5 separate regions of the Homo sapiens genome follow, and all the other regions are linked to region 1. The links come from fine-mapping of genetic effects on gene expression. A gene starts in region 1. Each other region holds a variant in brackets. All regions are shown on one strand. Distances are between the middles of the regions.

What was found. PIP is the estimated chance that this variant, and not a neighbour inherited with it, causes the effect.
Region 2: its variant is fine-mapped to the expression of PARVB in sun-exposed skin (GTEx, PIP 0.98).
Region 3: its variant is fine-mapped to the expression of PARVB in subcutaneous fat (GTEx, PIP above 0.99). The same link has a PIP of 0.9 or more in esophagus muscle and gastroesophageal junction.
Region 4: its variant is fine-mapped to the expression of PARVB in whole blood (INTERVAL, PIP above 0.99). The same link has a PIP of 0.9 or more in B cells, CD8 T cells and monocytes.
Region 5: its variant is fine-mapped to the expression of PARVB in whole blood (Lepik 2017, PIP 0.95).

The regions. Positions count from the first base shown.
Region 1 is chr22:44,020,789-44,026,855 of GRCh38, forward strand. PARVB (parvin beta) reads left to right here and starts at 3,514. Exons shown (of 13, transcript NM_013327.5): 1 at 3,514-3,663. The coding sequence starts at 3,552. It overlaps LOC124905131 (a long non-coding RNA gene), which reads right to left and starts at 1,987. Exons shown (of 2, transcript XR_007068125.1): 1 at 663-1,987. RefSeq lists silencers at 3,382-3,491, 3,522-3,641, 3,712-3,761, 3,812-4,021 and enhancers at 4,792-4,871, 4,882-4,961, 5,002-5,051, 5,122-5,171, 5,672-5,781.
Region 2 is chr22:44,083,616-44,089,682 of GRCh38, forward strand. All of the region lies in intron 1 of PARVB (parvin beta), which reads left to right. Among named protein-coding and RNA genes, the nearest start is that of PARVB, 62 kb to the left of the region's middle. The variant C/T (reference allele first, on the strand shown) is at 2,896.
Region 3 is chr22:44,054,739-44,060,805 of GRCh38, forward strand. All of the region lies in intron 1 of PARVB (parvin beta), which reads left to right. Among named protein-coding and RNA genes, the nearest start is that of PARVB, 33 kb to the left of the region's middle. RefSeq lists an enhancer at 800-1,300. The variant G/C (reference allele first, on the strand shown) is at 2,736.
Region 4 is chr22:44,166,308-44,172,374 of GRCh38, forward strand. PARVB (parvin beta) reads left to right here. Exons shown (of 13, transcript NM_013327.5): 13 at 2,295-6,067. The coding sequence ends at 2,371. Among named protein-coding and RNA genes, the nearest start is that of PARVG, 12 kb to the right of the region's middle. RefSeq lists enhancers at 1,120-1,899, 3,790-4,311. The variant A/C (reference allele first, on the strand shown) is at 2,897.
Region 5 is chr22:44,182,450-44,188,269 of GRCh38, forward strand. PARVG (parvin gamma) reads left to right here. Exons shown (of 14, transcript NM_022141.7): 3 at 869-959; 4 at 3,359-3,423; 5 at 5,327-5,429. The coding sequence starts at 881. Among named protein-coding and RNA genes, the nearest start is that of PARVG, 4.4 kb to the left of the region's middle. RefSeq lists enhancers at 1-653, 1-56. The variant G/A (reference allele first, on the strand shown) is at 2,737.

The DNA of each region.
Region 1 (6,067 bases):
TTTTTTTTTTGAGACTGAGTCTCACTCTGTCGACCAGGCTGGAGTGCAGTGGCGTGATCTCGGCTCACTGCAACCTCCACCTCCTGGGTTCAAGCGATTCTCCTGCCTCAGCCTCCCAAGTAGCTGGGATTACAGACATGCACCACCATACCTGGCTAATTTTTGTATTTTTAGTAGTGACGGGGTTTCACCATGTTGGCCAGGCTGACTCCTCCAACTCCTGACCTCAAGCGATCCACCCACCTTGGCCTCCCAAACTGCTGGGATTATAGACGTGAGCCACCACGCCTGGCCCCCCTTTTGGGTTTTTATGGAGCCTTCATTGGCTAAGCACAATTGAAGCTGGACAACCATGTCGAAGTGTGATTGGACAAAAACAGTATGACTCAACACCATCAGTCAGAGTGGTGAAGCCCCGCAAGGCCTGTCTGTATAGCATTTCTTCCTCCTGGGCGGGAGGCTGGACTCCTCCTGAAATGGGGGTCCCGTGACCCTCAGTCAGACAAGGCAGGTCAGAGAATTTCTCCACGGCCAGCTCCAAGATGGAAAGGTGGGGGAAGATTCAAGTATATTTTCATTTTCTATGGCCTGACTTGGGGAGAAAAAGGAGCAGGTGAAAGGAGGGAAGGAGAAAGAAGGTCAGAAAGAGAGAGAAACTACACCTGAAGCCTGCTTCCAAAGATCCAACATGATAACACAGGACTATCGTTCCCCTTTATTGCTCTGAAGCTGTTTCCACACTGCTTCAGGAACCAAGGAAAAAAGAACAAATATTGTAACAAAAGATCTGCTTATTGCTATAGTCACTGAGGAAATAACAAGGGTGATGGGAATTATGAGCCAGGCATGGTGGAGGAAAACCAATGCATAAATATCATCATCTCACAGGGTCTTTGCAGATGATGAGGTGAAGATGAATCACCAGGATGGGCTCTAATCCAACATGACTGTGTCCCTGTAAAGTCTAGACTCACACACACACACACACACACACACACACACACACACACACACACACACACACACACAGGGCCTAGTAGAGACGGAGGCAGAGACGGGGCAATGCTTCTACAGGCCGAGGAACATGGAAGATTTGCTGGCAAACCCCAGGAGCCTGGAGAGATGCAGGGAACAGATTTGCCCGTGCAGCCTCCAAATGGAAATGAACCTAGCCTACACCTTGATTTGGATTTCTGGCCTCCTGCTGAAATCCTAATCCCCAGTACACAGGGGTATTACAAGGACACGGTCATCTTGGATTACAGCCCACTCTGGTGACTTCATCTTCACTTGATCATCTGCAAAGACCCTTGTGAGATGATGATATTTATCAATTGGTTTTCCTCCACCGTGCCTGCCTCATAATTCCCGTAGACCTTGTTATTTCTCTCCAAACTGTGAGAGAAGACGTTTCTGTTGTTCTGAGCCCTCCAGCTCATGGAACTTTGTGCTGGCAGCCCCAAGACACCCCAGTGTCCTCTCCCTGTCTCTTCTGCCTGGTGGGTCTTCTCCTCCTTTACTGAAAGGAAAAGGGCATTTGATCCTTGTTCCAGGTCAAATGTCCCTTCCCTGCAAGCCTCCTCTGCCCACAGCACTTCTCCCCCACCCCATCCACATGGTCCCTGTCCCTCCTCCATGCTGGCCACGCTACACGGCCACTGTGTCCTGTGCCCACGTTCTCCTTGACCACAAACTCCTGGAGGACAAAGCTCTGTGCCCTTGGTCTTCACGCCCCTGGCTGAGGACTGGGCCTGGCACCAACTTGACCAACAGAAACATGTACTGCACTGGGGGGACTGGGGGGCAGCCAGCACAAAGGGAGACAGAAAAACCATCTCAACCCACACACCCAGAGCTGAACCCACTTCTCCCCAGGTGCCGTCCTCTGCTGAGTGATCCACCATGGCCTGGCAGGACACCCAGCCTTCACTCCTCCTACTTCTTTTTTTTTATTTTTTATTTTTTTTTTATTTTTGGAGACAGAGTCTCGCTCTGTCACCCAGGCTGGAGTGCAGTAGCATGATCTCTGCCCACTGCAACTTCCACCTCCCGAGTTCAAGCGATCCTTGTGCCTCAGCCTCCCAAGTAGCAGGGATTACAGGCATCCACCACCATGCCCCGATAATTTTTGTATTTTTAGTAGAGATGGGGTTTCACCATGTTGGCCAGGCTGGTCTTGAACTCTTGACCTCAGGTGATCTGCCTGCTTTGGCCTCCCAAAGTGTTGGGATTACAGGTGCGAGCCACTGCACCTGGCCTACTCCTCCTACTTCTTCAAGGCTGGGGCTTCTGGCTGTGAGCATCTCAGAAATCTGTTTGCTTTTCTCCTAAGTCACCGTCCGCCTGCCTGTGCCTTCTCTGTCTCCAGCACCTGCTGAGCAGCCATCAGCCAGAGGCAACATCTGTGACATCACAGCTCAAAGCCCTGCCTGGGTATCTAGGCTGGGCATGGTGGCTCACACCTATAATCCCAGCACTTTGGGAGGCCGAGGCAGGCGGATCACCTGAGGTCAGGGGTTCGAGACCAGCCTGGCCAACATGGCAAAACCGCATCTCTACTAAAAATACAAAAATTACCCGGTCGTGGTGGCGTGCACCTGTAATCCCAGCTACTCAGGAGGCTGAGACAGGAGAATCGCTTTAACTCAGGAGGTGGAGGTTGCAGTGAGCCGAGATTGTGCCACTGCACTCCAGCCTGGGCAACAAAGCAAGACTACGTCTAAAAAAATAAAATAAAATAAAACAAAACAAAATAAAATAAAATAAAATAAAATAAAATAAAATAAAATAAAATAAAATAAAATAAAATAAAATAAAAATAGCCCTGTCTGGCAGTCCTCGGGATGAAGCCGTTTCCTCTGCTTCCAACACATGCGAGGCCTGTCTCCCCTCCTCTCCCCTCCCTGGCACCCCACACTGTCCCCAGGGCCTGCTCTTCTGCTCACCTCATGGTACCGGCCTGCAAGCCATTTCCTGGGGCCTCCCCGTCGCCTCTTCCAGAAACAACTCCTGGAACTCCCCTTGGAGGTCAGGCCAATGACCTGTGCCCCGCATTGCCCTCCATCCTCTAAGCTTCCCGTGGGTAGGGACAATTCCCAGTTCTGAAGGGCTCCCCCTGCCCCGGGCCTGGCTCTTGGCAGAAGCTTAACAACAGACCGGCCACGTTCGTGTGACCTGATTCTCTCCGGCTTTCAGGACGTCCTGAGGCTGCACCCACGTGGCAATGGTGTCTGTCGCGCTGTCGCCTGGATCCGGCACCACTAGCGGAGCCGAGCAGAGCCCAGGGCTCCAACGCGTAGGGAAAAGGCTGCGCCGCTCCCGGGGTGGCCCCACGCCCCTTCTCTGAGCTTGAGCGGCGGCGCGGGACGGGGACGGCTCTGGCCGGGACCAGCAGGCCTCGGGCATCCGGGACGCCGGGGCCGCGCTCCAGGCCAGGGGCGGGGGCGGGACCGGGGCGGGGGCCGGCGGCGGGGCCGCGCCCTCGGCCTCTCCCCGGGGCGACCGGGCGGCTCCACACGCGCTGCGCCCGCCGCCGGCCCCACGCGCGGCCCATGTCCTCCGCGCCGCGCTCGCCCACCCCGCGGCCCCGCAGGATGAAGAAGGACGAGTCGTTCCTGGGCAAGCTGGGCGGCACCCTGGCCAGGAAGCGGAGGGCGCGCGAGGGTGAGTGCGCGCCCGCGCCCGCCGACCCCCGGGGACCTGCCCGGCGGTGCCCGCCCTCGGCCCTAGAGCCCCACGAGGCCGCCCCCGCCCTCCCCCACGCACCCCGCCCGGCCCACGCGGCTGCGCGACCTTCGGGACAGGCCAGGCCTTTGACCCAGGACCCGTAAACAACGGCCGGGACCTGGCGCGTGGGGCCGCGGTGGCCTCCGGAGTCTGCCAAACGCGCGTGCGGGCGCCTGCGCGGCGGGGACCTCGGGCCACCGTGCGGGGCCCGCGCCTGCTCTGCCTGCCGGGTGTTCAGCTCTTCCCTGGGCCAGCGGCATAGCCAGCCGCGCGGGGTGACCGTTCATTCCATGAGCAGTGACGCTCACGTGTGCAGGGCACTCTGGGCAGACACGGCCTGGGGGACCCACTACTGGGTGTTGCGCGGGCGCCCTGCAGGGTGCGGGGCTCAGGGCGTGCAGGGCTGAGGCCTGGGAGGCCTGCGAGCAAGAATTGCAGAGATCCCATTAAAAATTTTTTTTTTTAAATTTTTTACTGCGTGTGCTCACGAAACACTACCAACCTCGTACGTTTTAAAGATTGTTAGAGTTGCAAGGGATAGTCTGGTGTCTTTAAGTGTACCGCTTGCCCAGGGCCTCCTGGGAGATACATTCTGGAATTTTCTGCTTGGGTGGGGAGGTTCTGCCCCGGGACCATGCCCTATAGTGAGATTTCGGATTGGTGAGAGGTGAGGGGAGCTGCTGTGGAAAGGCAGATGGAGAAAGGCCGGCCTCAGGTGGGTCCCCGGGAAGGAGCCCTCCCATAGCGGGTATGCAGTACGGTTTCCTTAAACCACCTGGGCCTGACATATCCCCTGGGAACTCTTCCTGTGCCTCCAGGGATTAGTGTACCCCGGGATGCAGGTCCCCCATTCATTTCTTCCCTGGGACTCTTGTATTCCTAGGGATGTGTGTGCCCCGGGAAGACATATGACAGATTTGCCTCTAGGCATGTGTGTGCCCCCATGCACCTGCTCCCCAGGATTTTTGTACAGTGCAGGGAACGCTTGGTTCCCCAGACATTTTCTCCCAGGGATGCCTGTGCCCCCAGGGATGCGTGTCTTCCCACCCGTGATCCTGTTCCAAGAGGGCAGGGTCTTGTCCCCTTCAGTAGGTCTCCTGGCGGATAGGTCACTCTTCTCTCAAGCCTTACACTGGAGGACCCACTGTAGCTTGTATTGGTCGGTGTTGGTCACGTCTCCTAAATGACATGATTAGTGGCTGTCACCCTTCTATCATCCCCACTGTTCTTCCATGCAGTCATCAGCACCCTCACCAGAAATCATTTCGGTTCCTCTTTATGGCTTGCAACGATTATAGACGCAAGTGACGCTCCCCTCCCAATTCAGCCCACAGCCTGTGGAGCGCCCGCCATGGGCCAGGTGCTGCTTAGACCCCAGGAAGAAAAGAGCGGGGGCGGGGTGCTTGCTTTCGTGGAACGGGGAATGAATACATAGACAACTGGCGCTGTGATGACGTGCCCCGGAGCACATAGAACAGGGCGATCAGAGCCAGGGGAGGCCTCTGAGGAGGGGACACTTGAGTGGAGGCCAGAAGGAACCAGAGGAAAAAGTCTTTCATAGAATGGCAAGGAACCGGAATGTTCTGGGCTATTGCAGCTTTTTCTAGGTGCCGTTTACGCTCTCGGAATAGGAAGAACACACACCCAAAGTAATGGACTGGGCCCAAATTCCAAAGTACGCAGTGCTTCTCCTCCTTGCCTGTATGAATTGATGTGTGTCTAGAAAATTCAGGCCCAGCCTGGTTTAATTCAAATGCACCAAGAATTCCGGTAGCAGGAAGCATCCTGTGCTGAATAGAACGGGCGTGGAGGCAGGAGGAGGAGCAGGACGCCGGGCACTGCTGATGCTGCTTTCGCTGGGGGTGAGCTGGGCGCCCTGCCTCGGTTCTCAGGGTTGGGGTGCCTGGCAAACAGAGGGCCACAAACCCTCCTTGGATCTAGGCACAGGAATTGAGGGACAGGCTGGATTGGGAAGGGTTTAGCGGCTTCTGTGTGGTCTCCTGGGAAGTGGAAGAGTCAGGAAGACTGGATAATGAGGGCTTGAATAATTGAGAGTCGCTGGTATTTCCGCAAGCCCATTTGCCTTGGCAACATGCGCTTCTGCCACTCCAGGGTGGAGCAGCCCCTGGCCCTGACTTTGGGCCGTCAGAGCTATGCTCGGTTGCCTACCAGGGAGTGACAGGGCGCTTGGGAGGTTTCCACGACCCTGCCTGCTGCACCGTCGGCTTCATTTCCTCCTTTGTTAGAAAGTTGAGGGTGGATTTGGGAGAACGGATGTGGCTCCGACATGTTCCTGAGTTGAGGACTCTAAGGGAGGAGGGGGAAGCTGGGGGAAGGGGCG
Region 2 (6,067 bases), 63 kb after region 1:
GGTTGTGGGGACAGTCGAGCAGAGGGGCAGAGATATGACCTACAGAAGTGGCCTGGAATGGCCTCATCAGACGATGAGTGTGGAAGCATGGTAACTGCAGCTGTATTGATGAGAGGAGGGGTCTGCTCATTAACAGTCATCGGGTACCACTATGAAGGTTTTGCGTTTTACCCTGGAGCTGGTGGGAGCCATGGGGTGCACTGCAGCAGGGAGTGACCAACGCCAGCTTTGTGTATTGGAAGGATTTCTACATCAGACAGGACTCTCTTGGTTTGCAAAGGACAGAAAACCCAACTCAAAATGGCTTAAAAGCAAAACAGAATTCACTGGTACATTTGACAGAATGGTCTGTGGGGTTGGATGGCCTCAGGTAAGGCTTGATCCAGCACATAGAAGGTGTTGCTAGATCCTAGATTCTGTTCTCCCCTTCCCCGAGCTCTTTCGATCTGGTGCCTTCATCTCCAGGCTCTGTATAGTGGTAAGATGATGGGACGGCTTCAACCTCCATCCTTTCTGGGTCAAGGCCAGTGGGAAGGAGTGCCTGTCTCATTCTCTATTCCTGGTAAAGTCTCAGTGCAGTTCATTAGCTCTAACTGGGCCATGCCCATCCCTGACTGTGTTCCTGGGAGGCCAGTGTGCCAGCTGGCTTTGTCCTGGGATGCCTGCTCCACCCCAGAGCTGAACTACAAGGCCCGAGCATGGTGGCAGGAGGGGTGGCTCTCTCTGAGGGAGGCTGAGTCTTGTTTGCCTGAAAGGATCAATGGATGCTGGAGAAGAAAAGCAATGGTGTCCATAACAGTCACCTCCAGAAGGGGAGAGGCTGGGCTGGGGTGGGAAGAGTTTAGGGCAGGGCTTGCAGGGGCCAAGGTGGCCATCCTGGTGAGAAAGCCCCACTGGCCAATCCAAGAATAGGGCACGAGATGTGAGCCTGCCAAGGGTACTCCCAGGTCTGGCATCTTGGTTCTTTCCGCTGCGTTCTTGGCACAGACACTCATGCCAGGGCCTTTGCTGTCACCCATAGTCTCAGAGTCATGTTATTATTCTGCAGTCATCTGTGGGGATGGGACCGTGCAGGACTTTCCCTCCCCAGCTTCCTCCCTCCTTCAGGGTAGCTCACTGTGTCCCCCGAGGCAGCCAGTGCTGCCGGGAGAGGCCCGAGACTCCTTCTGGGTCTCAGAGCCATTTCTATGGTTGAACCCAGTGTGTGTCCTTCCCTGTAGAATTGGCTGCCACTTTGTTTCCTTTAGGGTCCCCACTGCACCCTGTACATAACCCTGCCAGGACATCTGTTTATTTTCCATTCTTGTAGCTTTATTTTTATTTCAAAAGGAGTACAAGAACACAGTCTGGTGGCAGAGCCTCCCTCTGTCTCCTCCTTACCTTCAGCCACTGGGCCTTGCATCAGTAATGCTGCTCTTGTCATTCTGGAGCATGCCCTTTCATTTCTTTTTCTGTGAATTTTGATACGTACACATAGAAATACATAGTGGTGAGTTTTCTAGTTGTATTTTTTACATAAATATCATGCTGTATTTATTTTAAAGTGTCTCACCATGTTGCCCAGGCTGGACTTGAACCCCTGGGCTCGAGTGATCCTCCCACCCCAGCTCCAAGTAGCTGGGACAACAGATGTACACCACCACACCCAGCCTTTGCTGTATTGTTCTGCAACATGGTTTTCTTTTTCTTTTTCTTTTTCTTTTTAATTTTTTGAGACAAGATCTGGCTCTGTCACCCAGGCTGGAGTGCAGTGGCGTGATCTTGGCTCACTGCAACCTCCGCTTCTCGGCTTCAAACTTTCTTCCCAGCCTCCTGGGTAGCTGGGACTACAGATTCACACCACCATTCCTGGCTAATTTTTGTATTTTGTGTAGAGATGGGGTTTTGCCTTGTTGCCCCGCTGGTCTCGAACTCCTGAGCTCAAGCCATCCACCTACCTCAGCCTCCCAAAGTTCTGGGATTATAGGTGTGAGCCACTGCAGCTGGCCCAACCTGCTTTTGCTTTTTTAAAAAATCTCAACACCATGCTATGTATTGCACTTAATTAATTGTGCATCGAATCCTTCACGAGCCTTCTGTGCCAGGTGCGAGGTCGGCTGCTGGGTGGAAGTGACCAGGATACGTCTTCCCTCGGCTACACGCAGACTCTCCACGGTGCAAGGGCAGGGCCTGCCCAGCCCCATGCCCAGCCCTTTGGCATCCATCCACCAGTGTTAGTTAGATCAGCAGGCTGTCATGCCCAAGGCTTGCTGCCATCTGAATAGGACAGGGTTTCAGCAGTGAGCTCTTGATGTGGAGTCTGCGCCACCTGTTGACCTTCTTTGGATTTACCTTATTGAAATGTTCACACATTTCTTTTAGCTTCTCAACTTATTTCATCTTGAGAAATGGGCTGGAACCTCATGCCCCAGCACAACAAGCCCCATAAATCAGATGTTCAAGCTGAGCGATCCTTCCGGTTTGGGCCACAGTCACGGGGCTTTCTTACTCCTCTAGTCATGTCAGCACCGTTCAGAAACTCATCCTTGGCTTAGAGATGATAGTGAGTTACATGTACATAAATACACCGAGCTCATTACCCTGGGCCGGCATCCTGCATGACAAGGGCCCACATCCATTTCTCGGCAAAAACAAACTACATCTGCCACTTGAAACGTCAAGAAGCGCTTTCTTGTATGTTGTGCTCCATGGATCACTGGAAGTCCTTTCCCTCTTTTCCCATGTCCGGGCCAGGAGGAGCAGCTGCTCTCTGGCACTGTTAGCCTTTGCTGCCTTTTATCCTAGGCAAGACACTTTGTTATTCCTCCGATTTGTAATCCCAAGAACCTTGGAGATTGGACTTGGAGTTCGTAACCTCCTGGGGAGGGCCAGGCCTCACATTTCAAGGCCTTTGCA[C/T]GCGTGATGTGCCAGCAACAGCTCAGCCCTTTGAATTATGATCCGCGACTCCCTCCAATCACCTTCCTTCTGGATGTCAGAAAAGACTGCCCAACAGCATCTCCTCCCAGCTGCCGAGGCTGATGATGTTTTTATTCTGATTTAGATCTCACTTAGGTCTTATTTTAACTCCACTGAGCTGCAAGATCTTCACTGAAGTACAACTGGACTTATTTTTAGAAAAACTGCTCTGTTAAGAAGACCTTCGTGCCTGATGAAGTTAGTTATTCTGATAAATTACAGCTTCTACGAAGAAACCACACCCCTCTGAGTACGGATGGAAGTTGGAAAATTCATAGAAAGCTGTCATTTCCTGGCAGAGGCCTGGAAAACCTCATTTAACAGAGATGTCTTTGGGTTCCTGCTTAAGCCCAAGCGAAGGATCCCGATGCCCCCTCCCCAGCTGGGAAGAGGAGCTGGTGGCGTGAGTTGGCACAGAGCCGCACCTTTCTTTCTCCTCCTGTATCCTCCCGCAAGCTCTGAAGACCACTCTGTTTCTTTGAGCAGGATCAGTTGTAACTAGAAGTGGGTAGGATTTGAAAAGGGCTGGTTAAGTGTTTAAAACTGGGGCAGCTTTCCTGCCATTTTCCAGTTCTTTTAGATGTGCAGGGATGGAGAATGGCTGTTTTTGTTGGGGTTTTCTCTTTGATCCTGGTTCAGACGGGGCCCTCTGAAATTTCTCGCCCTGATCTTTTGTTCTCTATGAAAACCAGGAATTGCACGGATGGTGTAGAAAGTCCCCGTAGGTGGCAAAGCATCTCTGCTGTGTTGAAATGACACACTTAGAAAAGTGTCAGAAAATGGAGTTGCCATTGCTCTGGCCCCCCAGGACCTGTGGCTCAGCCTCCATTGGGCCTTTGTGTCTGGGCCAGACCCTCCAGGCAAGCCCCCAGTGAGGCTCTTGGGCCCGTGATTGCAGGGGCGCCTTGCCATCCCCCGTGTCCTGCCCTGGTTCTGCTAGTGGAGCAAGAAGCTGATCAGCCTTTGTGTTTTCAGATTTCTTCTCTCCGTTAAGGTAACCTTGTTCTTTAAACCAGCTTGCTTTCAAAGTTGTTTTCCTAATAATATCAAAAGGGGGAAAAAAAGCTGCCTGAAAATCCTTTTTTGGGAAAGAGCCTGGGCATAAATAAATAAATACAACCATACAAAGAAGAAGATTAAAAAAAAAAAAATCAAAGATGGAACTTTCGCATTTGGCCTGAGGTATAAATGGCAGGCTTCTGATGACATGCTTTTAGTTTTTGATTCTCTTTCTTTCCTTTTATGTTCTTGTAATTCCAAATCAGGAACGATGGTGTTTTTTTTTTTTTTTTTCTTTTTTCTTTTTTTTAAACCTTGCCCAATCTTTGGGTGGAGGCTTTGGAAGCCGCACATATTCCACCATTATAGTTACTCAAAGCTGACGCTTCCCGAGGGGTGGCTGCATGCTGGCGACTGTGCCGAGGGTGTGTGTCCCTGAATCTTTGTGATCTCTCTGAGGTGTGTTAGGCCCCACTTTACAGATGGAAACTGAGACACACAGAGCCGTCAAGCAGCTTGCCCAAGGTCACACACCTTGTCAGTGGTCAAGCTGGGATCCAAAACCAGCAGCCTGGCTCTGGGATTCTAAGCTCTCTGTTGTGCTGCTCCTTGAATATATTAAAAGGCCTACTATGTGCAGGAACTGGGTTGGCACTGGCAGGAAGGCAAGTTCGGGAAGGAGATAGTTACATGGCTGTGTGGCTTCAGCTGGGGAGAGGGGAACACCCAGGAGGGCTTCTTGGAGGAGGCGGCCAGTAAGATGAGGTTGAAGATAGGTAGGATTTAGTAGGGCACAGTGAGGTGCAAGATCAGGTAGAACTGGCTTTAGTCCTGACTCTGGGGCTTCACATCTAACAGCACAGGACCAGCCACTCCCTCACAGACTTGTTTATTTATTATTATTGTTATTATTTTTGAGACAGACGGAGTCTCGCTGTGTTGCCCAGGCTGGAGTGAAGTGGCACAACCTTAGCTCACTGCAACCTCCACCTCCCAGGTTCAAGCAATTCTCATGCCTCAGCCGCCCAAGTAGCTGGGATTGCAGGCGCCCACTGCCACGCCTGACTAATGTTTGTATTTTTAGTAGAGACAGGGTTTCATCATGTTGGTCAGGCTGGTCTCGAAGTCCTGACCTCAGGTGATTTGCCCACCTTGGCCTCCCAGAGTGCTGGAATTACAGGTTTGAGCCACCGTGCCCGGCCTCCCTCAGACTTGTTAGGAGACAAGGTGAATGGCTGGCATGGAAGATGCCCTGCACATAGTAGGTGCTCAGGAAACGTTAGTGGTGCTCTCCCCCTTTCCAATGGACAGTCAGCAATATGGGTTGGACAAGTATGTTCTGTAATCCGAGGTTGTGTGCCCTCTGGCTGGCCCACAAAATTTGAATTAATGGCTCGTATTTATAAATGGGGAGATTCCACACCAAACCCCACATTTCCAGCTTTTCTTGAAAACTCAGATCTGGTGACTGCAGCCTGCACTTCCCACTCTGCCATCCCGGGCTGAGCGAGGAGTGCCCGTCTCCAGAGACAGTGTGCCAAGGGGCCCTCCTCCTATCAAATGCCCTCCTGTCTCTCTCTTCCTACCTGGCCCCCCGTGCAGGCCACAGAGCGTGGTGCTGCAGGTGAACTCTGCTGCGGTGGGAACGAGTTGGCATCGACTCCCTCGTGGCTGGCTGCTGGGTTTCGTGTGGACAGAGACATTCATCTTAGAACAATGCAGACACTTAGGAAAACAAGCACAAGGCGGTCTTTTTCCCTTAATCACCCATCTCATGAAATCAAGCCCCAGTCCCTTGGAAGCTCACACCCTCCACACCCTCCAGACACTGAGAGAATGCATGCCAGCATGCCTGTGCCAGCGCGCCTGTGCCAGCACACCCGGGCCAGCACACCCGGGCCAGCAGATCTTTCTCTGTGACTGAAGACAGCCGGCACTTCACATCTTTGAAGGGTTTGTCTTTCTGGCAAGTAGACCGGTACTTTAAAAACCAAAACATTCCTGGGATTCACTGAAAGCCAGTAAACTGGCACCGTTCAGGTGGCGGGGGGGTCGGGGGAGGGGGGAAGCCAAGGGTGTGAGAGGAGCCCCTCCTTCCAAAAATCACACCGAT
Region 3 (6,067 bases), 34 kb after region 1:
AGCACTTTGGGAAGTCGAGGTGGGCAGGTCACCTGAGGTCAGGAGTCTTGAGACCAGCCTGGCCAACATGGTGAAACTCCCTCTCTACTAAAACTACAAAAATTAGCCGGGTGTGGTGGTGGGCGCCTGTAATCCCAGCTGCTCGGGAGGCTGAGGCAGGAGAATCACTTGAACCCAGGAGGCAGAGGTTGCCGTGAGCCGAGATTGCGCCATTGCACTCCAGCCTGGGCGACAAGAGTGAAACTCCATCTCAAAAAAAAAAAAAAAAAAAAAAGGTTAAAGTGAGAAATTTTATGTATTTTATGTTAAATGTACCTTACTACAATTGAAAGAATGAAAAAAAAATACTGGGAAATACATTACACATACAAAAGAGTGTACATATGTATAGTTTACTGACTAATATTAAGGAAGTACCCACGTTCCTGCTATCCAGCTTAAGAAATAACATTACCTGTTCCCCGAGCCATATGCCCCGTACCTCCTGTGCGCCTCCCTCCCCACCAGAGGTGACCAGTGCCGCCTTGAACGTTGCATTTAGCATGTTGTATTAGTTAGAGTTCTCTGGAGAAACAGAACCAATGGGAGATATGTAGCTCTCTCTGTCTCTTTTTTTTTTTGAGACAGAGTCTCACTCTGTCGCCAGGCTGGAATGGTGTGATCTCGGCTCAGTGCAACCTCTGACTCCCTGGTTCAAGCAGTTCTCCTGCCTCAGCCTCCCCAGTAGCTGAGATTACAGGCACTGGCCACCACACCCGGCTAATTTTTGTATTTTTAGTAGACACGGGGTTTCACCATGTTGGCCAGGATGATCTCGATCTCCTGACCTCGTGATCCGCCCGCCTCGGCCTCCCAAAGTGCTGGGATTACAGGCGTGAGCCACCGCGCCCAGCCTGTCTCTCTGTCTGTCTCTATCCATCTCTCTCTCTCTCTCTCTCTCTATATATATATATATTTGAAGAGATTGATTATAAGTTATTGGCTCATGTGGTTACGAGACTGAGAAATCCCAGGATCTTCAAGCTGGAGACCCAGGAGGGCCAATGGCGTCAGCCCAAGTGCGGGAGGAGACCCACGTCCCAGCTGAGTGAATCCCCTTACCCTGCCTTTCGGTCTATTCAGGTGTCAAATGGATTGGCCGAGGCCTATCCGCACTGGGGAGGGCCATCTGTTGTACCCAGTCTACCGATTCGAATGCTAACCTCATCTAGAAACACCTTCACAGGCACGCCCAGAATAATGGTTAGCCAAGCACCAGGCCGCTCCCCACCCAGTCCAGGCAGCTAGTCAGCAGGCCCTGCCCCACTTGCTTGTCTTTCCTTGCGTTTTGCACACGCATGCATCTCTGTCCCTCACTTTCTTTAGTTTTGCCCGACTTTGACCCCAATATGACGGGAGCCCCACCGTGCGTGCTGTCCTATGACTCGAGTTTACGCAGTAGCCTAGCTTTGGGGCACAGCCCCATTTACTTGGGGCACCGCTGCCTCTGCTGTGTGGCCGTGTGGGATCCCACACCAGGAGCACCGTCCCTTTGTCACCTGGGAGGGGTGATTCTGTGCCTGAGTTGCATGTGGATTTCCTCCTGCTGAGTTTTAATTAAGAGGCAGGGAGCAGGTGGGTGAAGGGCACACACACGGATGCAGCGTTGCCCGGGTTCGAATTCTGCCTGCGCCATTTCCTGCCTGCTGAACCAGATCGGACAAATTACTCTACCTCTCTGTGCCACAGATTTTTTGTTGTTGTTGTTGTTTTGTTTTCATTTTGTCTCGTTTTGTTTTTGTTTTTGAGACAGGTTCTCCCTCTGTCACCCAGGCTGGTGTACAGTGGTGCAATCACGGCTCACTATAGCCTCGACCCTGTGGGCTTAAGCAATCCTCCCACCTCAGCCTCCTGAGTAGCTGGGACGACAGGCGTGCACAGCCACACCTGGCTAATTTTTTAATTATTTGTTGAGATGGGGTTTCACTATGTTGCCCAGGGTGGCCTCGAACCCCTGGGCTCAAGTGATCCTCCTGCCTCAGCTTCCCAAAGTGCTGGGATTAAGTGTGAGCCACCTCATCTGGCCTTTGTGCCCCAGTTTTCTCAATCAGGTAATGATGATAGCTCTCAGGTGGTGAGGGTGACTGTATAAAATGTCTGGAAATGGCACCTGCTCTGTGCCCAGGGGTTAGAGGCTTGGGACCGAGCTGGGGGCTGAGCTGGGGGTGGAGCTGGGGGCTGAGCTGGGGGTGGAGCTGGGGGCTGAGCTGGGGGTGGAGCTGGGGGCTGAGCTGGGGGTGGAGCTGGGGGCTGAGCTGGGGGCGTTTTTGTTCCAAGGCTTTCTTGCTGATAAGTTTCTCTTTCTCTCTCTCTCTTTTTTTTTTGTCCTGCGTGTCTCAACCTGACAAAAATGCTCAGTTTAGAAGCGTGTCGTTCCATTTGTGGGAAAATTAAACACATTTAAGAGTAAATTAAATTAGGGGACTTGTGATCATTAGCTAAGTAAATTATTTTTTAAAAATGTGATGTACCAAGCATAGCACATGTGGCACGCTCAATAAATATTTGTTAGAATGAATGATAATTTTATGAGCCAGTCGAGTCATATATAATGGGATTATTTGGTTCTAGAACTAATGAAGTGACTGTAGAGCAATAAAGCTTCTAAAAAGAATCTCCGTGCTCGCAAAAAATCCAAAAGTGGGGGAAGAGGCTCATGCTGGATTTCACCCAAGAGCGAGGCCCGAGGAGAGCTG[G/C]GACGCTGTGTCCTGAGAGCTGTCCAAGGGGGGCCCTTGTGACTTGGCAGGGGTGGTTTTGGAGCCTGAGTTTATCCGCACTCTGGGTGGACTGGGTCTCGGGGGAGGCCTGCCTTAGGTCAGCTCAGGAGACCAGTGGATATAGCAGGAGGCCCACTTGCAGTTCACGGTTTGTCTTGCCAGATGTGCAGGGGGCCCGGTGTCTCAGCACTTGGCACCTGTGGGACTGAGAGAGGAGTCAGTCTAGCACCAGACACCCGCTTGGTGGGGGAGGGGAGTGGAAGAGGAGGGAGAGGAGAGAGAGGGGGCTGGAGCCCCAGTCCCACAGCTTAGGTCCTGGGAAGCCCTGTGGGTTCATGCTTGCCTTGAGGGGAGGTTGGACGGCTCAAGCAGGGACCAGGAGCCTCCCAGTGTGGCATGAGCTTTGCTGGAAGCCTGGGCTCTTTGAGAGGGGTGGGGCTGAGAGCCGCTAGACCTGGCTTCATCCTCCTGCCTGCTTTCCTGTCTGGGGTGTACCCTGGGAAGGGACATAACTTCCCTGAACCTCGGTTGCCTCCCCTGTCCAGTGGAGGAAAGGAAGGCACCTGCCTAACTGGGCTCTTGAAAATAATAAATTGAGATAATACAAAATCTGCATTAATTTCCTAGGCCTGACATAAAAGAGTACCCCACACTGGCTGGCTTACAGAGCAGAAGTTTATTCTCTCCCAGCTCTGAAGACCAGAAGTCCAAGATCAAGGTGTCAGCAGGGCCTTGCTCCATCTAAAGTCTCCAGGGAGGGATCCTTCCTGACTCTCTTGGCTTCTGGGGACGGTGGGCAGTCCTGGCATATCTTGATTTGTGGCCATGTCACTCCAGTCAGCCTCCATTGTCACAGGTGTCCCCCTTCATGCCCCTCTGTGTCTTCCTATGGTCTTCTCTCTGCATGTCAGCATCCAAATTTCTCTCTCCCATGTGGACACCAGCTGGGCCCACCGCAGTCCAGTATGACCTCATCCGAACTTGATTACATCTGCAAAGACCCTGTTTCCAAATAAGGCACATTCTCCAGTTGTCCAATTCCAGGTGGACGTGGATTTTTTTTTTTTTTTTTTTTTTTGAGATGGAGTCTCACTCTGTAGCCCAGGCTGGAGTGCAATGGCACGATCTTGGCTCCCTGCAACCTCCTCCTCCCGAGTTCAAGCGACTCTCCTGCCTCAGCCTCCTGAGTAGCTGGGATTACAGGCACCTGCCACCACACCTGGCTAATTTTTGTATTTTTAGTAAAAATGGGGTTTCACTCTGTTGCGCAGGGTGGTCTTGAACCCCTGAGCTCAGGCAATCCACCTGCCTCAGCCTCCCAAAGTGCTGGGATTACAGGCATGAGCCTCTGCGCCCATCGGACGTGGATTTTGGATGAGACACCATTCAACCCACAGTACCTGGTGCTCAGTTAGTGACTAAAACCCACTAGTTATGGTCACTCAGTCACCCTTCTTGTTATTACTTTCATAGATGAGGGTGTGATGGGGGGGGGAAACAGAAGCAGAGTTGATTGTATCTTCTTAGTTCTGCACACCCTGTGGCTTTTTTTTTTTTTTTTTTTTTTCTGAGAGGGAGTCTTGCTGTGTTGCCCAGGCTGGAGTGCAGTGGCACGATCTCAGGTCACTACAACCTCTGCTTCTCACATTTAAGCGATTCTTCTGCCTCAGCCTCCTGAATAGCGGGCATTACAGACATCCGCCACCACACCCAGCTAATTTTTGTATGTTTAGTAGAGACGGGGTTTCACAATGTTGGCCAGGCTGGTCACGAACTCCTGGCATCAAGTGATCCACCCACCTCAGCCTCCCAAAGTGCTGGGATTACAGACATGAGCCTCTGTGCCCAGCCCCGTGGCTAGTTATTAGACTGTTCTAGGTCTTGATGGGAAAGGGGAGGAGGACTTGTTCTTCTCTTTGGATTAATAAAACACCGTGAGGCTTGTGTTTGCACAGTGCCCACAGCTTGCACACTGACAAGCCCTTTTAGGTTGACTTCTGCTGAGTCATTTCATCCTGTTCCATTTGTCAGCCATAAGGTAAGGAGCAGTTTTTCTGATGTACTCCTTTTGCATAAATGCTACTCTCCATCAGCCTCGAGAAGTAGAAGGCACCGGTATGGTATCCCAAGCTCATTCACAGGGGAGAAGAGATGCCTGTTGCCACAAAATGTGAATGTTGGGTGTACATTCAGGTGTCACGTACGTGGTGTTGATTGTCTCAGCTTAATAAAGAAAGATGCCGTACACATTTTCCTTTAAAAAGTCTCACTTGGCTTGTTTGACAGGCACAGAAGATGTGTTATTAAACACTTGCAAAGCCTGCTGTCATTTGGTTTTAAACAGCACTCGTCGTCTTTGGCGGGGCGTGTTTGCTCAGCATCATGGAAGGGGGATGTGAGGTACCCAGGTGGCAGTTTCTCTACCACGATGCTTTCTCTGCTTGCTATCGGGAGAAATGTTCTTTCCTATGTTGTGGGAAGGCGGAAAGGGCACTCTGAAATGTAAGGTGGCCTTTTGTATTAGAATTTCATGGCTGAGACCAGGCGTGGGGGCTCATGTCTGTCATCCTAGCACTTTGGAAGGCCAAGGCAGGTGGATCACCTGAGGTCAGGAGTTTGAGACCAGCCTGGCCAACATGGTAAAATGCCATCTCTACTAAAAATACAAAAAATTAGCTGGGTGTGGTGGCAGCCACCTGTAATCCCAGCTACTTGGGAGGCTGAGGCAGGAGAATCACTTGAACCCAGGAGGTGGAGGTTGCAGTGAGCTGAGATTCTGCCACTGCACTCCAGCCTGGGCAACAGAGAGAGACTCTTTCTAAAAAAAAGAAAAGAAAAGAATTTCATGGTTGATTGTCACAGGACCATCTTTAGTCCCAAGATCTGAGGCAAGGGAATCGTTTTCAATAGGAAACTTTTAAATGTTTGAGCAGCAGAAAGGGAGATTGAGCCAGAAGAACTTGCTGGTGGAAAGATGGTGGAAGCTGGGAGCTTTGAGGTTCTAAAAATCCTGGTGTGTCAGGTCAGGTAGTGGGGCAACCGGAGCTTAGGGTGAGTTATACCTGATGGGACTTAACTGGGTAAATGTCATCTAGTAACCCAACTACATTCGGCATTAATATCTGGACAAAAGGTGGAATACACCCGGGTTCTTTGGGCACAGGCGAAGGAGAGGTCTCATAGTTTGATGTTGCTCAAGAAGGGAAAACAAGCAGGATGGGAAGAGGTCTAATCAGCCGGCTGGAGTGGGGTGCTGGGTTTAGTTCATTCCTTCTTAAACTCAGCCAGTTCTCATTATTCATGGTGGTTTT
Region 4 (6,067 bases), 150 kb after region 1:
CCATGTTGGCCAGGCTGGTCTTGAACTCCTGACCTCAGGTGATCCACCTGCCTTGCCCTCCCAAAGAGCTGGGGTTACAGGTGTGAGCCACCACACCTGGCCCTTTGTCCCGTTTTTGAGGAGTGAGGCAGGAGCCTGTCCAGAGGCCAGGATATCCTCTGACAGGCCGGCCTCCTAGGAGGGTGTTTGCCCCTGAGCCCGGATGTGTTTCCTACTCATCTGCCGCTGGACGGCACGTTAGGGAACCCACCACGGACGTGTGGAAACCAGGCCAGAGGCAGAGGCACTGGTCCAGGGCAAATAGCAAGTTCTGCAGCCTCCCAGGCAGGGTCCCTTGGGTGTCCCAGGGCCTCTGTCCAGCCCAGGCAGGGGGCAGAGCTGGTCTGCAGTGCTCATTAGCACCTTCGCTGGGCCAGCACTGGGCAGGGGCCAAGCCGCAGAGATTTATGAGATGGGGTCCCTGCTGGGCCTCTTTATTTTGTGGCTGATGCAATGAATGAGAGACTTTTCCTTCTTCATTCAAAATCAGCTGGGGAGCAAGAATCAGGAGGTAACAGAGATAAGAATGACACGGAGAATGGGGTGCAGTGGCTGCGGTCTCCCTGACACCCTCCTCTGAGCTAGGCAGACTTACCCGGGTACCCAGGGCTGGTGGGGAGGGAGGCAGTGGCTGTGGCCTCCCCTGCAGGCCTGAGACTGCCCTGTTGGTCCCCACCCGGAGGAAGCAGAGCAGTCTCACACCCCCTGCACGTGGGCGGGTCTGAAGAGCCAGGCCTGCACCTGGTTCCCTAGGCCCCCAGCAATGATGGGCATCCTGGCCCCCTGCCCCCTTGTGGGGACCTGGCGGAGACTCCAGTGGGGTCCCCGACCCTGCTCTTAAGGAGGCCCCTTGCCTGGGAGAAAGGCTTGTGGCTCGCTCCAAATTCACAGAGCCGAGTGCGGAGCTCGATGGTGGGGTGGGTGTTTGGGGAGCACAGAGGGACTGAGGTTCATGGGTCACAGAAGGTGATTCCTATCCCTGGGCGCAGGTGCTAAGGGGTGGCTGTGGTTAGCAGGTCTGGCAGGGGTGTGAGGGTTAAGTTCTGTTTGTCCAGCGAGGCTGTCTGGAAGTTCTCAGAGCTCAGACCTGGGGGCTGCTGCGTGGGGGCATCGGTGTCAGGCTGCTGCTCTGGTCTCCCTGTGAGTCCACCATGGGAGTGGAGTCAGAGGGGGCCAGGAGGTGATGGCCCCCACCCCTGGGAGCTCCTCTGTCCTTGCTGCCCCCCTCGCCTTGGCCACCTCCAACTCCATGGCCGCCATTCTCCCTCCCCTGCCTCCACTGGGCTGTTGGGAGCTGGGGTGGACTCTTCAGGTCAGGGGGAGACCCTGGGATCCCTGACAGAGCCCCGGGTGTGTCCCCAAGCCCGCCGAGCCGAGTTCCCCGACAGAGCCCCGGGTGTGTCCCCAAGCCCACCGAGCTGAGTTCAGCCCTGCTTTTGCTCTGACAGCACACTCGTGGGCAGGTCATTTCTCCATGTGAGTCTTGGTCCTCTTTGTAAAACGAGAGGGAAGGAAAGGAGGCTGTGCAGGCTCTGATGAGGGTGTGTGAGTCGAGAAACTCCATGCCCAGTGACAAGGACAGTTGCTGATTCTTAGCATCCACCCCACCTGCTCTCTCAGTAACCGATGTCGTTTCTTACTCTTGTGATCAGGACTAAAGCACAGGGTCATCCCATGGCTGCTTTTGGATCACAGGGAGTCAGGACTCCAAGGGCCTCGAGCGTTACCTGGTCCAGGCCCATTTTACAGATGAAGGCACTGAGCCCCAAATCACGGAAGTCACTTAGAGGTCACAGAGCAAGTGAAATGAACAAGGTGTCTGATTCCCAGGAAGGTTCTTGTCCACATAAAGAAAGTGGCCCAAGACTTCCAGGGCCCCAGAGGGAGCTGTCGGGTCCATTAAGTGTTACTGGGGTTTTTGGTCCCGGTAAGTGTCATTAGCCATGTCCCCCAACCGGTTCTTAGACATGTCCTGATGCAGATCCAGGAGGGGCTGTGGGAGTGTCTCTGTTCTTGTCACCCCAGGTGCCTGTCCCCGCAGGGTGTCAGCCCGCGCCAGGAGCTCTCACAAAACCTGTGTGTCTGGGGAGGCACTGCCCAGAGCGTCCTGGACATGGTGGTGGCCAGTCTTTAAGGGGAAGCGCTGTGTGTGGATGCGGCAGCTGGTGTCATGCTGGAGACGTGGCTTCTGAGAGTACCTACCGCAATGACAGGAGGATGGCACGCCTCTGAAGTTTCTCTGTTTCCTTCTGCAGACGTGGTTAACTTGGACCTCAAATCCACCCTGAGGGTTCTTTACAACCTGTTCACCAAGTACAAGAACGTGGAGTGACGGGGGAGCTGTGGATGGTGGCAGGAGTGTCCCAGCAAGAAAGGCGGCATCCGTCTGTGCCCTGTGCCTTTCCAGGGAGCCAGGCGCCATGGGCTTCTGGTCCAAGCTGTGTTGACTGTCATCCCCACCCCACCCCTACCTCACGCCTGCCCCACCCCCTGCCTCTTTTGGTTGTTGTTCTTAATCTCCTCTCCATGTAGTTCCCAGTGGGCAAGAGCCTTTGAAAATGCAGGATTCTAAACACTCGTGCTTGCGTTTGAAGCCTCGCGTCACTCAGTCGCGTGGGATGATGAGTCCGTTGTTGTCTGCCTTGGCCGAAAGATGAAAAAAAGCCTGAACCCCAACCCCCAGCTGGTTGAGAGCACCCTGCATTCTGCCTCATGGTGCAGTTAGCGATCACAGGCCTTCAGAAGTACAACATCAGCTCAGCAGGAACGCCGGCTCCCCGAGGACCCAGGCTTGACGATTCACCGGGGATCTCCTGGGCTGGGCTCTCCTTGGAAGTGAGGCCTTTTATTAAAAATA[A/C]AAGGGTTTTGCAGTTTGAAAAACTTTAAAGTCCCAGAAGCTTAGATGTGACATGGGTGTCCTCCACCCACATTCCTATCACTTCTTGGTCACTCGTTTTAATGTAGGTTTTGCACAAACATCCAAGACTCAGGATGGCCCAGCTCCCACAGTCCTTGAAAGGAGCTGTCTGCTGGGGACGTTTCTTAATTTCTTGCTGTGGTTGAGGGGCTGGGTCTGGAGATGGCTCTAATTGTGCTGCTTGAGACAGCTTGGGTCACAGCTTTCCCCTTCAGAGGCCCTTTTTGGGAATGAATGCATCTTTGGAAACTTTAAAATGAGGGGGGTGCATTGGTTCACTGGCACTGTGTAGTAAAGTGCCACAGGGGAGTGGCTCAGACATCAGAGAATTACATCCTCAGGCCTTTCGCCTTGGCTTGTAGATGCCGGCTTCTCCCCGTGTCTTCACATGGTCTCCCCTCTGTGTGTCTGTGTCCTCACCGCCTCTTTTATTTTATTTTTTATTTTTGTTTTTATTTTTTGAGACAGAGTCTCGCTCTGTCACCAGGCTGGAGTGCAGTGGTGTGATCTCAGCTCACTGCAACCTCTGCCTCCCAGGTTCAAGCGATTCTCCTGCCTCAGCCTCCCAAGTAGCTGGCATTACAGGCAGGTGCCACCACACCTGGCTAATTTTTGTATTTTTAGTAGAGACGGGGTTTCACCATGTTGGCCAGGATGGTCTTGATCTCCTGACCTCATGATCTGCCTGCCTCAGCCTCCCAAAGTGTTGGGATTACAGGCGTGAGCCACTGTGCCCAGCCTATTTTTTTTTTTTTTTTTGAGACAAGTTCTCACTGTGTCACCCAGGAGTAAAGTGGTGCCATCTCAGCTCACTGCAGCCTTGATCTCCCAGGCTCAATTGATCCTCCCACCTCAGCCTCCCAAGTAGCGGGGACCACAAGTGCACACCACTAGGCCCATCTAATTTTTGTATTTTTTGTAGAGATGGGGTTTCACCATGTTGCCCAGGCTGTTCTCAAACCCCTGGGCTTGAGCGACCCACCCACCTCAGCCTCCCAAAGTGCTGGGATTATAGGCATGAGCGGACATGCCCAGCCTGCACCCCTCTTTTTAGAAGGGCTGCGGTCCTATTGGATTAGGGCCCACTTATATGACCTCATTTAATCTTGATTACCTCCATAAAGACCCTGTCTCCAAATACCATCACATCAGAGGTGCTGGGGTTAGGACTTCAGCATGTGGATTTGTGGGGGGCATAATTTGCCTTGTACCGGGAGGATATGAAGTGTTCATGTTACTCTCCCTGTAGCCCTGAGAGCATCTCCCTTAGAGTATCCTATAAAAGGAGTCGCTGCTCACTCAGTTATGGGTTGTTCACCCCCTCGCTCACCCCAGCTCTGCAGAGAACTGGGGATCCCATCGGCCATGCTTTCTGGGCTGGCCTCTGGTCGCAGTCAGTCCCTCGCTGTGGCGCCCCCCCCTCCCCCAGCTCCTTCCCAGGGTGATGACCCGCTGACCCCCTGGGGTGCACCTGCTGCAAAGCAGCCCCCTTCCTTGGCATCTCTCAGCATTCTCCGTAGTGAGCCTGGCCTTTCTGATCTTGTTAGCTTTTTGTCTTCCTGCCGCAGATCAGAGCTTTGGAGTAAGTTTTGATATGAAATCGAATGCCAACACCGAAGTTTTAGAAAACAGTTTAATATTCCCTCTCAGTTCCGGCTGTTGCTAGGCTGGGGATGGGTTCAGAATAGCCATTTTGATGGAGGTGATTTCCCAGCAGGGGAAAGAAATAATTAAAACAGCATTACGGTGTCTCTTGCGGGATGCAGTGACATTCAAAAGCCACACTGACAAAAAGCCTGGGGCTGGAACGTTCTGTGCTGCCTGCATGGCATGTACAGGACCGCGGCCCCCTGGAGCTGGTGGAGTGGCCCAGCCTTGCCCTGCTCACAGGTGGACCTGGAGAGGGCACTGTGCCTTCCCAGGGATTGGGATTTGAAAAGAACAGAGCTTGGCCAGGTGCGGTGGCTCACGCCTGTAATCCCAGCACTTTGGGAGGCTGAGGCAGGTGGATCACTTGGGGTCAGAAGTTCGAGACCAGCCTGGCCAACATGGTGAAACCCCATGTCTACTAAAAATACAAAAATTAGCCATGCATGGTATGTATGCCTGTAATCCCAGCTATTCGGGAGGCTGAGGCAGGAGAATTGCATGAACCCAGGAGGTGGAAGTTGCAGTGAGCTGAGATCATGCCACTGCACTCCAGCCTGAGCAACAGAGTGAGACTCTGTCTCAAAAAAAAAAAAGAAAGAAAAAAGAAAAAGAAAAGAACAGAGCTGTGATTTTCAGCCAAAATGAGCAGCCCTGGCCCATTCTGTGTCATCAGAGGGGAGAGGACGGTTACTGTGGGAGGGGGCTTCAGCTTCTCAGGGAGGTCCTGGCGGCCCCCATCTAGTAAACCAGTAAACCCATGCCTATCCTCATGCCCACGTCACACTCTTGTGGGTTTCAAGTCGAACAGTAAAAGGAATCATAAGATCTGTGGGGAAGCTACATGGGCACTTGTGTTTCACAACAGGGACCCTTAAAGGCGATGTTTCCAGCAAAGGATGTGATTTTTTTTTTTTTTTTTTTTGAGATAAGTTCTCACTGCGTTGCCCAGGCTGGAGTGCAGTGGTCATTCACAGACACACACATAGCAGACTACAGACTACAGCCTTGAACTCCTGGGCTCAAGTGATCCACCCACTTCTGTATCCTGAGTCCCTGGAACGGCAGGTGCACACCACCGCACCCGGCTTGGATGTGATCTTTTGTCCACATTCTTTTCCAATTGGTTCAAAGGTGTAGGTGTGCCTTTTGCATACCTGGGAAGGGCCCCATTAGGCTCGACTCCTCATTTTTCTCCATTCACCATCAGTTTGAGTCTGAATTCATAGCATGGCCTGGACAGATGCAGCAAGGGGCCAGTTCCAAGGCAGAATTCAGGGTGAACTCGATTCCTATAGGCTTGGGATGAATGGCTGCTGGGACATGAGGCTTGGGTGTGAGATGCCCCGTCTGCTGCTGCTCTTGGTTCTTAGTTCAGAGAAATTCTGGGACCCTTCCTCCTCCCGGCACCACGTTTTCAGTGAATGGTTCTTTGAAGAGGAACCCTGGTCCATAGGAACTGAG
Region 5 (5,820 bases), 160 kb after region 1:
CAGGATGGAGTCTGGCATCCCCCGCCCCAGGCTGGCTGCTGGTGTGACATGGGTGGCTCCAGTCGAGTGAATGCCTCCGTCTCCCACAGCTCAGGGGGCTCCCTGCTCTGGCCACCAACTTCTGCCATGTGACTCCCCTACCTCAATGTCTGATTGAGTTTGAAAACACTGAGAAGACCCAGGGGCTGAAAAGGGAGGAAGAGGGAGGCCAGAAGGCGCCAGCCGAGCCAGCGAAGCCTTCACAGGAGAGGAAGTGGGCCAGGGGAACAGGAAGGAGGGCTGGGCTGGCCTCTGGGTCTGCCCCTGTCCCGGGCATGTGGTGAGCCCAGCCTTCTGCCTGTAATGAGGAGGAGGAAGATGAACAGTGCCTCTGTCAACCCTGGCCCTTCCGGTTTATGGGATGGGAGATGTCACCATTCCACGTATCCACCTCAGCCAGCCCCACACAGGCCGACCGGGGAGGTTTCCCTTGAGCTCAACCTGACAAGCTCTGAGGAGTGAGCTGTACCTACTTTGTCCTGTCTGGGATAGGGTGGGGGGTCCCTGGGTAGGGGGCTGGGGGCTGCAGGAGCACGGTGGGCGGCCGCTCTGCACCTGCCTGAGGAAGGACCACTTCCTCCGCCAAGCCTTTGCTTGGCTGTGCCCGCCCTCAGCTTCTGTGCCTTTTTCTAACCCGTCACCCCGCAAGGGTTGGCTCAAGGGCTCTTTCTCACAGGGCCCGTACCCCCTGCCTAGGCTGGCATGCTGACGTGTCCCCAGAACCTGGCTTCTACCCTCCTTCTGTGCCTCCAGGTCTAGAGAAAATGAGGGGCTCAGTGAGTTTGGGGCTTCTCAGACCGTGACGCCCTCTCCTGCCTCCTCTGTGCAGGCTTGGGAGGCGATGGAGCCGGAGTTCTTGTACGACCTGCTGCAGCTCCCCAAGGGGGTGGAGCCCCCAGCGGAGGAGGAGCTCTCAAAAGGTGTGTGCCCACGCAGGTCTGAGGGTGGAGGGTGAAGGTCTGTGTGGCAAGAGTGAGCCTGGCCATGCCTGGGACTTGCAGCACCTTCCCAGCTGTCAGCTGAGCGCCCAATTCTGCTCACCCCTGCCTCCACCTTCTGCTTTATGCTTGACCTAACTCCTCCTCCTGGGACCTTCTACAGAGCTAGAACCTCTTCTCTCCAGATGAGAGACGGTGTGGATTACGATGGTGAATACTGATTGCTCTCATCCTGTGAGCCTTCTGAGTGCCCCTACTGCACCAGCACCTCTTACCAATAGCAACTCATTTATTCTCAAGGGCGGGCATCAGTGCCTGCTTTATACAGATGAGGAAACTGAGGCACAAGGGGTGACGTGCCACAGTAACAGGAAACTCTTAGCAAGTGGTGGACCTGGGTTCTGAGCCCAAGGAGGGTGGTCCCAGAACTGAGGTTCCACACGGACCACGCAGCGATGCCCACCATGGAGTGATACTTTGCAGGGTGTGGGGCTCCTGACGTGCTCCCCTCACACGTGTGGGTCCCTTTCAAAAGTGGGGTGAGCATAGGATGGAGCAATTCAACGACTATAGGTCGCCCTTTCAGTAAAGCTCTGTGTCATGAGCCCTTTGGGGGGTTGGCGGCCACAGTTCCTGCAACCTCCCTTCTAGGAGATGGCTCAAAAGAAGGACATGGGCAGGTACCCAGAGCTGTCACCCTCTCTGTGTTCTCTGAAAGAAACAAATGAACAACAGCTTGCAAGGAAGCAGCGAGATGTCCCAGTGGGGAAGGGCTTTAGGTGAACTCATTGGAATTTATGTAACCACAAAAACATAAATGTGCTGACAAAGAAAATGTGTGAAATAATTTAAGGGAAGGGAGCAGAATGCGGCTTTCTCCAGCTCCTGTGAATACCGCCTTTTAATGTTTATTTATTTATTTTTTTCTTGAGACAAAAATCTCACTGTGTCACCCAGGCTGGAGTGCAGTGCCAGGATCTCGGCTCACTGCAGCCTCTGCCTCCCAGGTTTAAGAGATTCTCCTGCCTCAGCCTCCCAAGTAGCTGGGCTTATAGGCACCTGCCACCACACCTGGCTAATTTTTGTATTTTTAGTAGTGACGGGGTTTCACCATGTTGGCCAGCTCGGCCTCAAACTCCTGACCTCAAGTGATCCACCCGCCTCGGCCTCCCAAAAGTGCTGGGATTACAGGCGTGAGCCACTGCACCCAGCCCTGAATGCCGCCTTTTAAGTAGGTGTTATGGAGCGAGAACTCCAGTGCCAACAGGGTCCCTGGCACGGCAGATGAGACCCCAGAAGGGACAAGCTTGGTCCAGAGTCACCTGGCTGTCTTTGTCACCATCTGGTATTCTGTGTTTAAAACATTGAAGATTAGAAAGTGTCCTGAGGAAAGTTGCTGAGTTAGAATAGTAGGACTTAGTTACTACCAAACAAAACAAACAAAAAAACCCATTAATTTTTTGTTTTACAACTGATTTAAATTACTAAAAGTTCTGGCAAGCAGAGCTGGGACATTGGATGATTCAAGCGGCAAGAAGTCTGCTCCAGGAAGGAGCAGCACCATATCCATTCACTCATTCCTTCATTCCTTCCTTTCTTCATTCATTCATTCGCCTGCTCACCCGCCCAAGTGTTTGCTGAGAGCCTGCCCTGTGCTGGGCACAACAGCCCATGACGCTGTTGCCTTCCCTTTCATCAGAAGACATGGGTCTGGGTAGTACTTGAAGGTTTTCAGAATACCTAGGAAAAGCCTTTATTG[G/A]GGTCACATGAGAGATGATGCATTTTGTGAATTTAGGCAAGACAGTCGCCACTGCTGACTCAGTATCCCCCCATGTACCTTGGAACTAGTTGATCTCAGAGGTCCTTCTTGGCCCTGACATTTTGTGGGTTCTGTGAGTCTAAAATGTGGGCAGATGCTGGCCATGGCCTTGGGGAAGGGGAGCTGCTGGGCCTCTGAGGGCCACCCCGGGGAGTCTGACTACGAGAGGGGCCATGGAGGGGCCTGGCAGACCTGGGGTAAGTCCCACCTTAGCCCCTTAGAGCCTGGTGAGCCTGGGCACCTCCTCCCCTCTCTGGCTGGGGTTTCACTTTACCTAAATAGGTAGGGTTGCCAGATATATCAAACATAGGATACCCAGTTAACTTTGAATGTCAAGTAATCAAGAAATAACTTCCGAGTTTATGTCTCAAAGTATAAATGCTGCAGTGTCTGAGGATGAGCTGGTGTTCGTGAGGGAAATGAGGGAAAGCACGCTGGGGCGGAAGTGGCAGGACCGGTGCCCCTGGGTCTGCGGTGCTGAAATCTGTGGGTGACCTGCAGGGAGTGTGGCCAAGCGCCCCACAGGGTCCCCATGCGCTTGTCATACCCACTCTGCTTCCAGGAGGAAAGAAGAAATACCTGCCACCCACTTCCCGGAAGGACCCCAAATTTGAAGAACTGCAGAAGGTACAGCAGCCTCCACAGCCCTGACTTCCCTGGGTGCCTCTTGGCAGACCAGGCAGCGGCCTCCACGGGGCGGGGACAGCAGGCTGTCCCCACTCCTTGGCCTCAGGCTGGGGGGTGGCGACCCCCGAAGACCCCTGGAAGGCCTGTTGAATGGAGCAAGTCACCCACAGAGCCTGCATGAACAAACATCTATTGAGCACCAACTGTGTGCCTTCACATACACCATCCCAGCAACCCCATGGGATTTGAGGGGAATCTATTATCCCTTACATCCCGGGGACAGGACAGACAGCAAGGCTTAGACAGGTGACCTCATCTGTCAGGGGCACGCAGCTGCCCGTAACGGAGCTGTGGTTTGACACGAGCTGCCAGCCCCTAAGCCCGTGCTCCTCCCCAGCTTGTCTGCCCAAGGTGTAGGAGAACTGGTGAGGTGGTGGTGGTGGGCCTGGGTCACCCATTCTTAGTTCTCTCCTTGGTCATGGGTCTGCTGCTATGGCCACTGGACCAGCTCGGCACAGGTGGGCTCCAGGCCTCTGTTTCCCTCAGCGTCTGTGTCTCCAGTCTCCACATGGCCTCTCTGTTGCCTCCTCCAGGGAGGCCTCCTGGCCTACACCATCTTCCATACCCAGAGGCTTTGTGGGCCATTTCCCATCCTCCTTCCTATTCCCTCACTCCATCCATCCACCTTTCCCACCTTTGACCAGCACACCTGGCCCAGCCCTGTGACTGGCACTGGGGACACCATCTGTGGTCTTGCCCGGAAGACCTGGTGAGGTGCTGACATGTCGTCTCAGCTCGGTCTCCTCCACAGGCTGATCCAGAGACAAGGATTTGGATGCCAGTAGTTGAGTTGGGAGGTTATCCCAGGGGTCATGGGAGGGAAGGGGCCAACACATGGTTAGTGATGGAGCTGGTCATGGTTCTGGGGGCTCAAGCCTGCTGGGTACCCTGGAGCCAGCATAGAGCAAGTTCAGTGCATTCCTGCCCAAGGGGCGATGGAGCTGGGGTATTTATACACCACCACCCCTGCCCCGACAACCTCCTGACAACCTTTAGTGAACAGCTGCTCCCTGAGAAAGGGCTGGGCCTTGATTCCCTGGCACTCTGACCTTTTGAGCACAGCAGAGTGGGGACAGTTTCGAGCAGAGCTGCAGGTGGGAGCTGGGCCAGTAGGCAACAGTCAAGGAGTGGGCAGGGTACCAGCAGCCCCCGCATTAGCTTCCTAGGGCTACTGTAACATGTGACCACAGACTGAATGGCTTAAACCACAGAAACCTACTGTCTTACAGTGCTGCAGGCCAGAGGCCCTCAACCAAGGGGTCGGCAGGCTTGGCTCCTTCTGGAGGCTCTCAGGGGACCCCTGTCTTCTCCCTTTCCCCCAGCTGTGATGGCTGCAGCATCCTGGTCTCCCAGATCTGTGGATGCATCACTGCAGTCCCCACCTCCATCTTCACGTCCAATGTCATGTCCCTCATTTCCTCCTAGGACCTCAGAAGGGGCACCTTTAACATCCATATTTCTACTGACCACCTCTTCAGGGCAATCTAGGCTTTTTCTATCAAGTGCTCATTGTCCAATTCTTTCCATTCCCCAAGCCATTTCCCCATTTTTGGGTATTTGCTATGGTAGTACCCCACTTCCTGGTACTAAAACCTCACACATGATAATGACAGCCCCACACTGCTCAGGTTTGTGATGGAGAGAAGCAGGGAGTCTGCAGGAACCTGGGGCAGGCCCCTAACAGCCTGGGAGATCAAGGAGGGCTTCCCAGTGGAGGTGACATTTGACCAGGCCTTGAAAGATGGGTAGGAGTTGGCAGGCGAGAGGCAGGCATTCTGAGCCAGGTGGAGGGCCAGGTGAGAAGTCTCCATCCCCCCAAAAGTTGTCCCCTTGGAGCCTGCAGGTGTTGATGGAGTGGATCAATGCCACTCTTCTCCCCGAGCACATTGTGGTCCGCAGCCTGGAGGAGGACATGTTCGACGGGCTCATCCTACACCACCTATTCCGTAAGTGGCTGTTTCTGGGGCTGCCTGGGCCTCGGCCCCATCCCCCTGACCTGGCCCCTCCAGGGCCCACAGGTAGGCTCTCTCCTTCAGTCCCCACAATGGTCCCGGGTTTAGGGACACCTGTCTCACTTTCTAGATGGGCCTGGGCTGGGGAGATGGAGGCGCTGTCCACAGCCCATGAGTGAGGGGGCCGAGCTGGGGCTCAGGGTGGGGCTCTGACGCCAGGGTTGGTGCTCTTTCTACCACACCACACTGCCTCTCTAACACTTATTGAGTGCCTGCTGTTTTGAGGTGCTGGGAGGTAACAAAAGAACCCATGATCCCTGCCCTCGGGCTGCCCTAGGCTGCTAGAGAGAAAACGGGCAGTCCTGGGTGGCTGGGGGCAGGGCTG